2 separate regions of the Homo sapiens genome follow, and region 2 is linked to region 1. The links come from fine-mapping of genetic effects on gene expression. Tissue or cell type: nasal epithelium. Region 1 holds a variant in brackets; the other region holds the start of a gene. All regions are shown on one strand. Distances are from middle to middle.

The links. PIP is the estimated chance that this variant, and not a neighbour inherited with it, causes the effect.
Region 2: PPP1R1C starts here. The variant in region 1 is fine-mapped to the expression of PPP1R1C in nasal epithelium (TOPMed, PIP above 0.99).

Annotation. Positions count from the first base shown.
Region 1 is chr2:182,150,323-182,158,322 of GRCh38, forward strand. All of the region lies in intron 13 of PDE1A (phosphodiesterase 1A), which reads right to left. Among named protein-coding and RNA genes, the nearest start is that of PPP1R1C, 170 kb to the left of the region's middle. The variant T/A (reference allele first, on the strand shown) is at 3,349.
Region 2 is chr2:181,981,075-181,989,074 of GRCh38, forward strand. PPP1R1C (protein phosphatase 1 regulatory inhibitor subunit 1C) reads left to right here and starts at 4,779. Exons shown (of 5, transcript NM_001080545.3): 1 at 4,779-5,117; 2 at 6,765-6,825. The coding sequence starts at 5,037.

The DNA of each region.
Region 1 (8,000 bases):
GAATAATCGGTTGACTTTCTACAATGCAGATCATAAATAGATAACCTGAAGTCAAGACGGTTGGCTTTTAATTCACTGGTACTTCAAGAAGACCAGTAACGTCACTTTTGAATTTCATCTTACTGAAAGGATTTGCAATGTCATATATATAGAAAGCTGCTCATTAGGAATGAATGCAAGTGGTCTGTTCAAAGAAATTGCATATAAACTTGTTTGTCAGCCAGGAAAAACAGTGAAAATAAAGGAACATCAATAATTCTGTTCAGTTCAAAGAGTTTTAGGTGTTCATCTCAACCAGTTTCAAAAGTTCAAATCTAACAAAATAATTTGTAAAATGATAGAAATTTTATGGGTTTGGTTTGTAAATAGAGTCTCAATTCTTCAAGGAGCAGGGAGGGGATAGTTGTTATAGGAGAGACAGACTTACCAAAACCAACAGAAATCCTCTAAATTTAGCTAATCTAGGCTTTTAGATTGCAATTTAAGCTCACTTTTACCATATTAGAATCATAATGTGTTAGACTCATGGTGCTGTGAATAAGACTTGCAGGGAATTACACCAAACACACTATCAAGTGGATATTAGAGACTTTTGTCCTCCAGTCAGGGTCTCACTAACTATCTGAGAAATAACCTGTTAGGATAAATTATTATACAATTGAAAATATACCAATAATAATCAATACTTTGTGAACACCAACTAGGTGGCAGACACTATTCTAAGTGCTTCACTCACCTCACTTCCCTGAATCCTCACAGCAAACTTATTATTATTATTTTTTGAGACAAAGTTTTGCTCTTGTTGTCCAGGCTGGAGTGCAATGGTGCAATCTCAGCCCATTGCAACCTCCGCTTCCTGGGTTCAAGCGATTCTCCTGCTTCAGCCTCTCAAGTAGCTGGGACTATAGGCATCTGCCACCACACCCAGCTAATTTTTTTGTTTTTTGTTTTTTTGCATTTTTCATAGACACAGGTTTCACCATTTTGGCCAAGCTGGTCTTGAACTCCTGACCTTCAGGTGATCCACCTGCCTTGGCCTCCCAAAGTGCTGGGATTACAGGTGTGAGCCACCACGCCCTGCCCCCCTCACAGCAATCTTATAAAGTAAGGTTGAACAATTGTGGAAGCTGAGACATAGCTTGAAAACTATCTGCCCAAAGTCTTAAAGCCAGCAAGGGGCTGGATCCTCTGACAAAGGACAACCAGAATCTTGGCCTCTAGTTTGACTGTTTCCCAAGCTACAATCATGAGTAACCTACCCTCACCAATTCTGCTGTATTCATATGCCACCTGTCCTCTCGCTTACCTAATATTTTTCTTTAAATAGACTTTAAATATACTCCTTTAAAAATTAGTTTTGTTCTCAATAGTAATTTTCCTACCACAGAAATAAATTTGTTGTTCTTTTTGTATTTTTCTAATACCTCAAATCCATAATTAAAAGATCATTTCTCATGTAGATATAAAAAACAAAATGATTTAATAGCTTATTTTGCACTCGTTATTTTTGACTTATCTAGCCCAACAATCCCTGCATGTAAGTGGGAAAATCATCATTATGATTCTCATTTTAGAGATGAGAAAGACATGATTAGAGGGGTAGCTGACTATTCCAACGCAAAATAGCCTAGGTGAATTTGGGAGACAGAATCACAAGCTATTCCTCAGAGCAATGCCCCAGTTAATTTTTTAAATTTAACAGCAATAATAAATGGTGTTTGAAAAATACCACAAAATTGGTTTGTGCAGTCTTTTCAACAGAAATATTAGCTCTGAGTAACACTGCATTCTTATTTTTTCATAAGAAGAATATTACCTTTGCTATGTATAATAGTATTTCCTTAGGCATATCTCTAGGTTGCTTCAGCTTTACTTTTAGACCATTTATATAGTTTATGTTGCAGATAACTAGAATAAATTGGTGATCAAAGATTAAAGTTACAGTCATTGGAAAAATGTAATGTAGGATAAATCAGATATTCTGATTTTAATTGGTGTTTTGGCATCCATATAATGTAGTTTGCCTTACATGCTGGGATAAAGAAATCTATTTTAATACCAGGGGAAATACTTTCCCTATTTTTTTCCTCTTTTTTTTTTTTTTTTTTTTTTTTTGAGATGGAGTCTCGCTCTTGTTGCCCAGGCTGGAGTGCAATGGCATCATCTTGGCTCACTGCAACCTCTGCCTCCCAGGTTCAAGTGATTCTCCTGCCTCACCCTCCCAAGTAGCTGGGATTACAGGTACCTGCCACCAGGCCCAGCTAATTTTTGTATTTTTAGTAGAGACGGGGTTTCGCCATGTTGGCCAGGCTGGTCTTGAACTCCTGACCTCAGGTGATCCACCCGCCTCAGCCTCCCAAAGTGCTGGGATTACAGGTGTGAGCCACTGTGCCCAGCCTATTTTTTTCCTCTTAATTTTAATGCATTTGGAGAAGAAGCAGTTGTATGTGTTCGTTTACTTTGCAGTATGCGTGAAGGCAACAGTAAGAGAAGACAGGACTGCACACTAGGCAGAAGAAAAAGAAGGCTGTGAAAACAAAATTCCACTTAATTCCAAAATGTGCTAGCTCCAACCCTGTAAAATTAGAGCAAGTAATACCTTAAAGTGTTACATAAGACACAAATCAAGAAATAGGTAAATTATGTATTGGTTCATTAAAGAAAAACAGAAACATCTGATTTTGAGGAAAATACAACAATTTACTTTAGCAAGCTTTAGACTTACACCCAATGCATATGTGCTAGGCATCTAGATATGTAGAGAGTTTTACAGGTGATCTACGGAAAATGAAAAATTTATATGTATATTCATCTGCAAATCAGTGAAATTATACTCAACTTGGGGAAGCTAATACCTTGTCAGATAGCCAGAAATCTTAGTGTTTAAGTTACACTGAAATAGTTTAACAATGTGGGAGGTAGTTCAGCTGGCTCCTTGAAAGAGTTTTCTAAAATTGGGTCTGAAGGTTGTATATGTTTTGTTGGCACACAGGTAGGAGTATGCTGTTAGTGAAGGGATGAGGAGGTACGGTGGAGCCTGAGCAAAGGCAGAGGGTTGAAAAGAAAAATGATATGCCAGGAAAGAAATGAAGCCCAGCTGAGAAAACTACTGTGAGCTCCTACCCACTGGTTGAAGCAATTATTTCTCCATCAGAGTGTCATTCTTTTAGAGGAAGGCTCTGACACCTATTAAAATGTTATTATTCCTAGAAGGGAACTTTGTGACTGAATCGCAGATCTTCTTAAAAGAAAGCAGGCTCTGAGAGCAGGGAGATGATAAGAATGCACAGGCATTGATTGAAGGTAGAGAAGTTGGGGGTGGCAATGGAGAGAGAAGCTCTGGAGTGG[T/A]GAAGTTAAGACCATTCAAATCACACTTTATCTCTTGTAAAGAGTAGCAGGAATCAGCCATGGAAATGATCAGATTTGGCTCGTAGAGGCAAGTTGATGTGAAAGGCAACATGGGGCTGCTCTGATTTCTCAATTAGGATGAAAAATGGGGTGAAAATTGAGTCTGATGTTGGAGATACTGAAGGGTAGGAGGTTTGGAGGCAGGTAAGGGATGAGAAATTACTTAATGGGTATAATGTACACTATTCGGGTGATGGCTGCACTTGAGTGTGAGAGAAATGCCAAAAATTCACATATTCTTTATCTTTATAAATAGGACAAATTAACTGTAGAATATTGATTTTAACTATCTACCTAAGTGAGTTTCAAAAGCTAAAACTTGGAAAAAATAATCTGTAAAATGATGCAAACATTTTGGCTTTCCTTTAAATAATCTGAATAAACTATTCTGGTTGATTGAGTTTTCTTTGTAAAGCTGGATTAAGAAAACAAACAAACAACAACAACAACAAAACAAACTTCAATTGCCTTTAGTAAAAATGTCAATACATAAATCCATTTCTGTGCCTGAATGGAGAATGTTGAATATGATTGAATTTGTTTTGATGATGATAATCATGTAAAAACAAAAACAAAAAATCCTGAGGTGCATTGTTCTAAACATAAACCATTAATTTTCACTCTCCTATACATGTACACTAGATATATACGTGTCAAATAAACATGTATCATTCATCCTTATTATGAATGGCTCTAAGAAGTTGATATGGTTTAGCTGTGTCCCCACCCATATCTCACCTTGAACTTAATAATCCCCACGTGTGAAGGGCAGGGCCAGGTGAAGATAATTGAATCATGGGGGCAGTTTCCCCATACTGTTCTCACGGTAGTGAATAAGTCTCACGAGATCTGATGGTTTAATAAATGGGAGGTCTCCTGCTTCTTGCCTCTCTTGCCTGCCGCCATGTAAGCCACACCTTTGCTTCTCCTTTGCCTTCTGCCATGATTGTGATGCCTCCTCAGACATGTGGAGCCGTGAGTCCGTTAAACCTCTTTCTTTTATAAATTACCTAGTCTCAAGTACGTCTTTATTAGCAGTGTGAGAACAGACTACTACAGAAATCATTTAAAAAACAATTCTTAAATTTTCTGGTTTGTTACCATTTCTCAATTTACAAGTTAAAAAATTAATTGAAGGATCTACTTTCAATGTGGAATTTTATAACATAATACTACTACTAACAAATTATTTTTCAAGTTGCTTAACTTTAAGAATGTCAGAAAAAAACAAGGCATTCATATTATGTAATTTTACCACTTATCTGAAATCTCTCACCTATAATTTTTCATTGTTCTCTTTTTTTTTTAATGGGCCCAAACATGAATATAAAAAAATGTCCAATTTTAATTCTGCTTTTTTTTTTTTTTTTTTTAAGAGAGGGTCCCACTCTGGTTACCCAGGCTGGAGTGCAATGGTGCCATCATGGCTCACTGCAGCCTCCACCTCCTGGGCTCAGTTGATCCTCCCAACTTCAGACTCCCAAGTAGCTGGAACTACACAAGCACACCACCATGCCCAGGTACTTTTTTATATTTTCTGTAGAGATGGGGTTTCGTCATGTTGCCCAGGCTGGTCTTGAATTCCTGGACTCAAGCAATCTGCTCATCTCGGCCTCCAGTAGTGTTGGGATTACGGGCATGAGCCACCATGTCCAGCTGGGAAATTCTGGCTCTTTATGCAATAACCTTAAAATGATGTAATACACAACCACATTTATATTTTAAATTCTTCTATCTGACTAAATATGGACTAGATATATACATGTAGGATAAACATGTATAATTCATCTTTATAATGAATGGCTCTAGGAAATTGATATGGTTTGGCTGTGTCCCCACCTATATCTCACCTTGAACTATAATAAGCCCCACATGTCAGCCAGGTGCAGTGGCTCATGCCTGTAATCCCAGAACTTTGGGAGGCAGAGCCTGGTGGATCACCTGAGGCCGGGAGTTTGAGATCAGCCTGACCAACAAGGAGAAACCCCGTCTCTACTAAAAATACAGAAAATTAGCTGGGTGTTGTGACGCATGCCTGTAATCCCAGCTACTGGGGAGGCTGAGGCAGGAGAATTGCTTGAACCAGGGAGGCAGAGGTTGCAGTGAGCCGAGATTGCACCATTGCACTCCAGCCTGGGCAAAAAGAGAGAAACTCCGTCTCAATAATAATAATAATCCCCACAGCTCAAGGGCGGGGCCAGGTGAAGATAATTGAATCATGGTTGCAGTTTCTCCCATGCTGTTCTCATGGTAGTGAATAAGTCTCATGAGATCCAATGGTTTTATAAATGGGAACTCCCCTGCACAAGCTCTCTTGCCTGCCACCATGTAAGCCATGACTTTGCCATAATTGTGAGGCCTCACCAGCCATATCAATAATCTGTCTATATGTATTTTAGCATGAAGTGTTACTATAGCTCAAATTATCTAATCATAAGTTATCTGTGCAGGAAATAGCATAAGAGCATAACTTAGTAAGGAGGAATAACTTAAGTTTATAATTATTAAGAACAATATTAGTAGCAACAGTAAAAACAATAGTAAACATTCAGAAAATGCTTACTGTGTACCAAGCACTGTGCTTAGTGCTTCACATATTTTATCATCTTATCCTTTCAACACTTTTTTTTTTTTACCCAAGGTCATACACCATCTAAGTGACAGAGCTGGGCTTTCAACCCCAGAGCCATGAATTTTATTACTAAGTTGAAGAGTTTGGTAACATGGTGCTAAGGCTCTGACTCAAAGGGGAAAGTATCTATTGATTGGAAAGGGCGGGAGCATTCCTAGTCATCTGGAAAAGCACAACAGTGAAGTTTCCAGTTGGGAAATGTGGAGTAAACATGACATTTTTCATCTTCCTTCTCTAACAAGCTACTAGTATTTGAAATTCAGTTCTTCAGGGGTGGCTGAGTAGTGTGGTAGTAAGAAGTGTGAGCAGCATTTGTAAGAAATAAGATTATCTTTTTACTACTATTCTCTGTGATAAAACCAGCAGTAGAAGATAATCTAAAAAGAATCCAGCAGCAAGGCCTGCACAAGTCCTATACCCGTGGGGATTTCAAAGTAAAGGGCTGCTAATACTATAAAGGAGAAATAATAGACATTGGGACTCCAAGAATAATGAGAAGTTATTTTATTTAAAATCCAGTATAAATATATAACTGAAGTAAGTATCTATGCTTAAAAAATCAAAAGATGTAGAGGAGCACAAACCCTGTTATCATTTTTGTTTCGTTGAATTTTTTATTTTTTTATTATTATTATTATTTTATTTTATTTTATTTTATTTTTTTTTTTTTGAGACAGAGTCTTGCTCTGTCACCCAGGCTGGAGTGCAATGGTGCAATCTCGGCTCACTGCAACCTCCAGCTCCTGGGTTCAATCGATTCTCCTGGCTCAGCCTTCCCAGTAGCTGGGATTACAGGCACACGCCACCACGTCTGGATAATTTTTGTATTTTTAGTAGAGACAGGATTTCACCATGTTGGCCAGGCTGGTCTCAAACTCCTGACCTCAGGTGAACCACCTGCCTTGTCCTTCCGAAGTGCTGGGATTACAGGTGTGAGCCACTGTGACCAGCCTATTTTGATGAATTGTGACTCTCCATCCTGAAACACCATGGCTAAGCATCCATTGTAGATCTTAAAACTTCCCAAATTGTGCACACTTTGCATATTCAAACATAGCAAGAGCTATGAACTGTTTCTAACCTAGAGACTGCAAATATCACAAGTTTCTATAGACTCTAAGACCCAATTTTAGTGTTTATAATCAACAAACTCTTCAATGCAGAGGGCACTTCTTTGTATGAGTTTCCATCTAGGGAGGATGCGAGAAGAGTTAGGAAAGTAAGTTTCCTTTGATTTTTTTTCTCTTCGTTTTTTTCGTGGAGACTAAACCCACTTACAATCTTTACCAACCTAAATAATATTCACCATGTAAGTATCTGTTACAGAAGAACAAGTCATCAAATGCTGGTGGTATGCATAATCCAAAATTCTAGGAGTCTATAGATATCCCTGATGGTATTTTGTAAACACTGTTCAACAAATTTGTAAACTGAGTTGAATTGGAGCTACCAAATGCCCCCAGAAATAAATGTTTTTCCATCTCATCTTTTAGCTTGAAGCCACCAAATCTTTAAGAGGCTTTAGAGAGTTGGTAGTAGCTATGTTGATTGGGCCTAAGAATCAGCCAAGATAGAAATCAATTCCACATATTCAGCTATGCTTTAACCTGGGGTGAGAAAGTCTCTTGGCTTCTTACAAAAGTCTTTCCACGTTATTTCTTTCTCTGCTATGTACATGTCAATACCTAACTTTGGCTGGCTATGATGGGGGGTTATTTGATGGGATATGTGGAGAGAGCTAGCTTCATCTACTTAGAGTTTGTGAACGTAGTGGTGGAAGAAATTGCCTCCCTTGGATGTATATGCAAGTTGCTCCTATTGAAGTAAACTTGTAAATTCATGCTTTAAAATAAAAGCACTTTAAGCAATTAGTCACAAAGTACTTTATTGATCTACAACTTTCAGTCAGGATTATGAGAAGCAGTAGAATCTCTAATCTCTAAAGACTCATGTAACAGGT
Region 2 (8,000 bases), 170 kb before region 1:
CCCGCCACTACGCCCGGCTAATTTTTTGTATTTTTAGTAGAGACGGGGTTTCACCGTTTTAGCCGGGATGGTCTCGATCTCCTGACCTCGTGATCCGCCCGCCTCGGCCTCCCAAAGTGCTGGGATTACAGGCGTGAGCCACCGTGCCCGGCCAAGGAGAAGTTTTAAAGAACACAGTAGGCACTAAATAAATGTGGAATGAATGAATCATTGATGTTTGCCTTTAAGCCTGATAGAGATTGCAAGTATTTTATACTTAAGTGCTGTGGGAATTCAGATTTTAATATGAGATTGCAATATAGTGAGCTTAGTCTGGTAAGGCTTCTTATAGCTGTAGATCTGAAAAAATATCATATTTAAAATTGCATGGTTGAACTTATAGGACATTCTGAAAGAGTTAAAATATGGCTAATAATTTCCATGGGGGAAATTTAATTTAAATGAGCACTTGGAAAGAGTGGTTCATTTCACTTATATTACTGGGATTCGACCACATTTTATAGATAGGCCTCTTTGCCTCAATTAGGTATCAATGGTTCAGTAATAATTTAATATTAATATGAAGGTTTTGGAGTTCTCCAACAGGTTACATTGAATATAATTGAGATAATTCTATGAAAGCCCAATAATATTGTCACTCTCCCATGCATCTGTTTTCTTTGATGGAGGAAATGAATGAAGTTACAACTAGAATTGAAGGAGGACATACAAGGGAGTGCATCTGAAATGTGACTGCCAGCATTTGGGTTTTAAATAGAAGAGACAGAAAATCATTGCATTAGGGCTAGAAATCTTTTCAATGGACTCATATCTAGATGATATTGTATTTTTTCTGCTTTTGTTCATTATTGTATTTCCAGCATTTAATGTAGTCATGTGTAATACATATTTGCTTTTATTTTTGATGGCATTTAGTTAGCCAACCAATTGTTAAACAAAGTCACGTCTCATATATCTGCATAACTTTCAAGATTCATGAATTCAAGATATTTAAAACAAAGCCTGGAATAGAAAATACATTAAAAAGTTTAAAAATTTGCTTTTCCCTCTCCACCCCTCTCCTCTCTTCCCCTTTCTTTCCCTTCTCTTCCCTCAAAGAAAGCACTTGTTAATATCAGGTAACAATTAAAAAACAAGTATTGACAGTTATCAGATAAAGAAAAATAACTCTAAAAACAGTCATAAGAACTATGTATCTATGGTATTTGGAGGCAGTTACTATAGCAAGAAATACTAACAGCAAGGTGTAGGGCTTGAAAGGGTGAGCCATAGTCTTTTGGAAAATTCAGTTTATTGGAACACCTTACGTTTCTTGATAGTATTAGATAAAGCCTAATTGGACTTATTTAGTAACTACTAGATGACGAGCATCTTGCTTGTTATGTTTATGTTTAAGATAGGATGGGATTTGCAGTCTAGGAGAAGAGGCAAAAGAAACACATAGGAAATTATTATAGAATAACATAAAACTATATATAATTAAATACCAGGAGAGGGAACAAATTGAGTGATTCTTCTTGTGTGGAGAATCTGAAGGTCTCTTTCTAAGGAGGTGGAATTAGAGAATGAATATAATTTGGGTTAAAAAAGGGAGCGGGGAGGCAGGATGGCTTCCAGGGAGGTAGGGGAGGCCACAGAAAGACTGGTGGTAAGGTGAACTGCGGCAGCCTGTAGGAGGGTCTTGAGGAATCATGCAAAGTAGGGCAAGATAGATATTATAGTGTAAAATCAGGAAGGCCTAATGGCCTATTTTCCTAATGTTTTTCCATCTTTACTCCAGTATCACTTACTTTGAAGAGAGACTATAGTTGTTGCTTGTTCTAGAGGCCTTTTTAATCTTTAATGATTGAACCCATTACTTTTAAAGAGCAACGGAGAGGATTCCTTTTTCAGTCAGTTTGGTGGTACAACATCCAACTTTAGGCTCTCCTTTCTATATTGATATCTAATTTGCAATGATTGAGTATCTTGATTAATAGTATCCTAGTCATGCTACTTGCTTCTCTTTCATTCATATACCACGTCATCTTAAGATCTTTTACCATGGAATTGATGTGGTCAGAACCTCTAACCACTGCGGAGATTCTGTTGACTGCCACTGACTTCTCTACTGGCCTTATATTATAGTGGCCATCATGATGCTGTTGTGATTAAAAGCCCAAGCCCTATGCAAAATTGCCCGGGTTTGAAACTGGGCTTTGCCATATATTAGCTGGATGACCCCGGACAAATTATCTAAACTCTCTGACTCCCGATTACCTAATTTTAAATTGAGGATAGCAATAATATCTACCTCAAACAGTTGTCGGAATAAATTAATGCAGATAAAGCACTTAGAATAATTCCTGGCACATGGTATCATATAAGGGTTAATTATTACTCTTGTCTCTAATAGGGATAAAAAAATGTGCACTTAATATTTAGGAAAATTATACCCCCCATGCAAACTCTATATTAACATTTTTTAGATTATTTTACATTTAAGTTGCATTTTAAGTAGTTCTTCAAGTAAGAATTTAGCTTTAAAAGGACTTCAAATACCTTTTAACACAATCTCTCCTCTAGTGCCATAGCAAAAGGCCTGGTGTGGAGTAGACTATAGTATCTACTCAACAAATATTTGCTATGTGAATAAATAAAGTTGCAAAATACTAAACATTCAAAAGACATGTAGGTAGTTATTATGATAAATAGAGTTATGCTTCATTCTTTAAGAATACAGAGAGGTGAGTTTAAACCCAATGTGGAGAACAGTAAATCTACAAAGGCTTCCTAGAAGCAATGATACTTAACTGAATCTTAATGGACACACAGGAGTTGGCCTCATAAAAAACAAGAAGCTTAAAGGGTCTAGATAGCCCATTTACAATATTGTCTCTGATCAACCTATTCAAAATAGGGCAATTAGTTAATGAGAACCATTTTATTGGTATTTATACCAAACACATATATGAAATTTCACTTTATCACCTATTATTCTAAGTGGAATCAAATTATTCCAAGTAGATAGATATTCTTAGTGATTCTGGTTGAAAATGTGTATGTTGAAGCCTTTTGAAAAATCTGGCTGAAAGAAAAATAATAGCTATCTTTTATTGAGTGATTCCGTGCTGGCCTTGTAATGAGCTCTTTTCAGGAATTGAGTAATCTAAACCTCACAAGAAGAAAGTTCTCCTACTGCCCAAACTGATAAACTTGGTAAGTAGCAGAGCTAGAGCTTGAACTCAAGGTTGCCAAGTGCATGTTCTTAATTATTACATTATGTGAAGTTTTGTATTAACTCCTCACTAAAAATACTGTCTTGTCTTGCTTTCCTTTTATATAATTTGAAGATATATTCAAAGAAATAACTTCATTAATGATATCAATTTAGATTTTATTTCTGGAGACTTTTGTAAACTGTTACATAAAATGTAATTTATAAATTTCCCTTCGACACTACACGGATAAACTCATCACAAGATTTCTTGCTAGTCAGCACTGTTCTCCACTAAAAGTGCTTTCACATCCACATCTTTGCTTTTTCCCCTAGTGAATATAGAAAACTACTTCAATAATGCATATTCCTTTCTATATTCCTTCAACAGAATGTTGCCTATTTAAATCATTAAGATGGATTCCTAGTACAGAATCAAAATTTAAAAAATAAAAACTTCAATTGTAAATACCTGGAATCATAGTCGATGTCTAAATATATTAAGTACATCCAAAAACATATTTACAAATCTAGTATTCATCACATAATGCCTCTCAAGAAAGCAGAGATCTCAAGCAGTTTCATTTTCACACTTCCTTCATAAAAGTATTCGAATGCATGAAGGCCATCTGGCTATGTTACTACCTCCCCTTTAACATTAACTAATGTGGCAATCAGGCTAGTGTCCCACTGTTCCCTGACCACTAGCCAATATCAACCCTCTGAACATTACCCACTTCATGCTTTTTTCAAGTCCTTATCTTTACATACATTTCTACTGTTGACAACAAGCCATAATGTTGACTACCATTAGGTTTCTACTAATGTTTTCCAGTCATATTCTTCCAAGTCAGAGAATGTAACTGGCTCCACCAGGAAATAAAATAGAGGTCATTGAAGCAGCAGTGACTTCCAAGCTGTTTGCTAAATTTAGCAGCACAATACTTTCCACTCTAATGAAAACTGTGAACTGCAATTTTAGAATGTTGGAACAGGATGGGACTTTAAAGGTCATTGAGTCCAATCCCCTCATTTTTCTGATGGAAGTGTGGAGGCCTAGACGTAGCCAGTAATTTTCTGGAGGCCACAGAGCTTGTTAATTATGAAGATGGAACTCGAACTAAGATCTGCTCAGCCCTGCAGTAATGCTGCCCTCACTACACCACAGATGCTCTGCCTCCTAGGATGAGTTTAAACTAACCAGATCTTATAGCATAAACATAGCTGATATTATTGGTTGTGGCTTACCCTCCATGGCCATTCAACTGTTTCGTGGCTGAATGTGAAATAGCAAAGGTATCTGACTTATAAGTTGCTGAGAGAAATGATTCCATACCTAAACCCTGCCCCCAACTCTAAAAACTTCCTGCTTGATGTTCATCAATAATGAATGGCCCATCCCTGCAATACTCAGAGGGAGCTTACATTGCACTTTTGAGCAGCCGGTTAGTAATGTACAGTGGATAGAGCCTTTCTTTCAAATCCCAGGGCAGTGGGTCCTTCAAGGCTAGCATTGCATTTTCAATTAGCTGCTGAGTGAATGCTTGGCATGTGTATTAGTGAAGAGGCACACAATTAGCGTATTGTTCCTTTCTGTATTGTGCTGAGAGGATCCAAGGGATTGGTGGGGGAACAGGCAAGCCAGGCATCACCGTGGATGTTGAAGAAGGGGGTTACTCAAACCTCGGCATCTTCACTTGCTCGATCTGGAATTACAGCTATTTATTACGAAGCACTCTGTGTGGCTTAGTGGAGTGTGTCTGAGGAAACACATCCCGGACACCACTTAGGGTTAGTCTTTCTGAGCTCTTCACATCTCTGACTAATTATCATCATTACCATGGAGCCCAACAGTCCCAAAAAGATACAGTTTGCCGTGCCTGTATTCCAGAGTCAGATTGCACCTGAAGCAGCAGAGCAGGTATGTGAAATTGCATGGAGAACCATTCCTGTACATAAGGTAATATGAACATGCATTCTGGTTATTAATTGAAAGGTTCTTTACCTTTTGATTTTGCTAACTCTGACTTTCAAGATAATGTAAACAAGAAATAAGTTGGTTTTTACACATACTTGTATTTAAATTGCATTGGGAGAACTATTGTCTAAAATGTAACACTTCATTTGATACAAAATTAGCACCTCTGAGGGGAAAATGGCTCTGTAAGCAATTCAGATATGGATTCATAAATCTGTTCATTTTTGCTCATTAAAATAACAGTTTCAACATTTAGAGCAACTTTTAAAAATTATCAAAATGAGCAACATTTTATTTCATTTTTTATAAAATAAAATGATTGATTTAGCAATAAAATCATTAAATCCTGCAATAGTTTGAGACTATAGGCCTAATACTTTATTTTCATATGTTTTATTATTGTGGACACAAAACAATGATTATAAGTTTATATAATATATTACAGCTAGGATTTGTAGCTTTTTGTACAGTTTTAAAATCGTTTTGTTCAGACATTACAAACAGTGTTTTAACATTTCCTAGATTCTTTGTCCATGTCTAATATTGGTTTACATCTGTATCACCTTTCATATTCAGATTTACTTAGATTCTTGATGCAATGGCATCTCTTAGAACTGCAACTGTGAGGAGGCAAAAGCAAAGAAATTTATGAGGACATCAACCTAATCCATTCATTTCTTAAAACTTAAATTATTCTTGAATCCTTTTCCAAGTATTTGATATAAAGTCTTAAAAATAATTATTTAATCCGTGACTCATAGTGTTTCAGGATGTTTTGAAATCTGAGGTAGATGCACCTAGACTCAGGCCAGATAAATGTATCCTTGAACATGTGTCTATCCATGCTGAATGGGATGTTGCTTCTATCTTGGACAGGATGTCATTGATAAATTTTATTATCTATCCTACTGACACTTACTTTGGGTATTTACCCATAAATGAATATAATAAACAAATAAAGGATATTATATTCAAGGGATTCTGACAATACTATGCTCCTGTAACTCTTAAAATGAAAAAAAAAAACTTTAGAGTTTGTAATAAGTTGCATATTCTCATAAGATCCATATTTATTCTTCATTTGTTTATTTGTTCTAAATATTATACTAGAAAATAAAAAAGTTAACAAAATTAATTGAAATTCAAAGCTTATGCTGTTGATTTAACTCTGGTACCTGCTAGAAATAGGTTTCCAAGCTCTTCCTTATCCTGTTTAAAAATAAGGGTAATGAATCTTGAAAGCACCACCAATGTTATGAGGCTCCAAGCAAGCCACTAACATTATCAGGTCAACCCTGTACCTTCATTGTAAATTAATTTTCTGTTGTATCATTCAGTTGTATATAATTATTTCTTTTCCGTGGAAATGTAGCTTTTTGGTCAAAGAGGGTGATACTTCTATCAGACAGTTCAATTCTGTGGCTTTCTATTATTTCAAAATAAAATTAGTGAGCACCTTCCATGTGTCCTCCAGAAATTTGCTTTTGCATGTGGGGAAAAGATGAGGGTGAGACAGCTTTGCAAGCTGCAGAGTAACCTGGAGCAGTGTCTAATACTCACTGATATTAGCTGGGCTTTTGTCGTTCACAGATCAGGAAAAGAAGACCTACACCAGCATCACTTGTGATTCTCAATGAGCATAACCCCCCAGGTAAAGAAGCATGATGTGTTTCACACTGATGGAACAGAATGGAATTGTTTAAAGAACATCAAAGTACATGTCGTACTGAAAAGTTTCAATTTAGGATTTCACAGTTAGCAATACTCTAGAAAGCTAATCTATAAAATGGATCGTAAACAGAATCAGAAATAAATATTACAGGAATAATCTCAAGCCACAGCCTGTATTTCCTCTAGAATATCATAAGTGATGATATGCTATGAAATATTTTGCTAGCACTGGCTGTCATATGTTCAGGTGTTTGTATGGAACCTGGATTACTGCTTATTAATGAGGCTGGTGGAAAGCTGTTTAATTAGGTTTAAAAGCTCAAATTACAGCCCTAGAGATGCTTATATCTTTACAGAGTAAGTTTTTTATATGGAAAAGGTTGACATGGGGTGGGCAATGACCCAGCGTTGGCTTCAGCTTTGCTGATGACGTCATCTCTGAATAATGCAATTGACAAGTAACCAGATCAATTTTCAGCACTGCCTATTTGAGAGCCATTCTGAATGGCTGAATCCATTTGTTGAGGTTTTATTTTCCATTTCCTGTAAAAATGAAAACCGCATTATTATTCCGGATAAAAGACTATGATCTGTAATCCACAAACATTATTTACTTATTGAAGCGGGGTGATTTTTAGTCTCACATTTAAGTGCTGCTTCTGGATATACAAGTAGGATAGGAAAGGTCATGACATTAATTTGCAACCAGGCAGAACTTGGTGTTGGATTTTTTTGCAGGTATAAACAATAATGGGTGGACAAAAGGAGTTTAAACAGTGGAAACATAATATGTCTAATAATAGACTGTAGCGAGTGATCTAAGAATACCAGGGTGAAATAGTCCTTGACTTTTTCAGACTCTTTTCTAATTAGAGAAACATATAAAAAGAACGTAAACTAATAGGCTATTCATCATTTAGCCCAAATCCAAGAAAATTTTCAGGTGATGGAAAATAAGTAAGCTAATTTATTTCTGTTGAAAATGAATAATTATAATTTGATCCTATAACTTTAGGGTGCCATTGCATTTAAAATTATTTTCAAATATATTATCTCAATAAATCTTAACTTACTTATATTTGGTTAAATAAGAGGTGCAAATGATATGTAATTATAATTCTAAAATAAATACAAGTATAAAGATAAGTCTTCTCG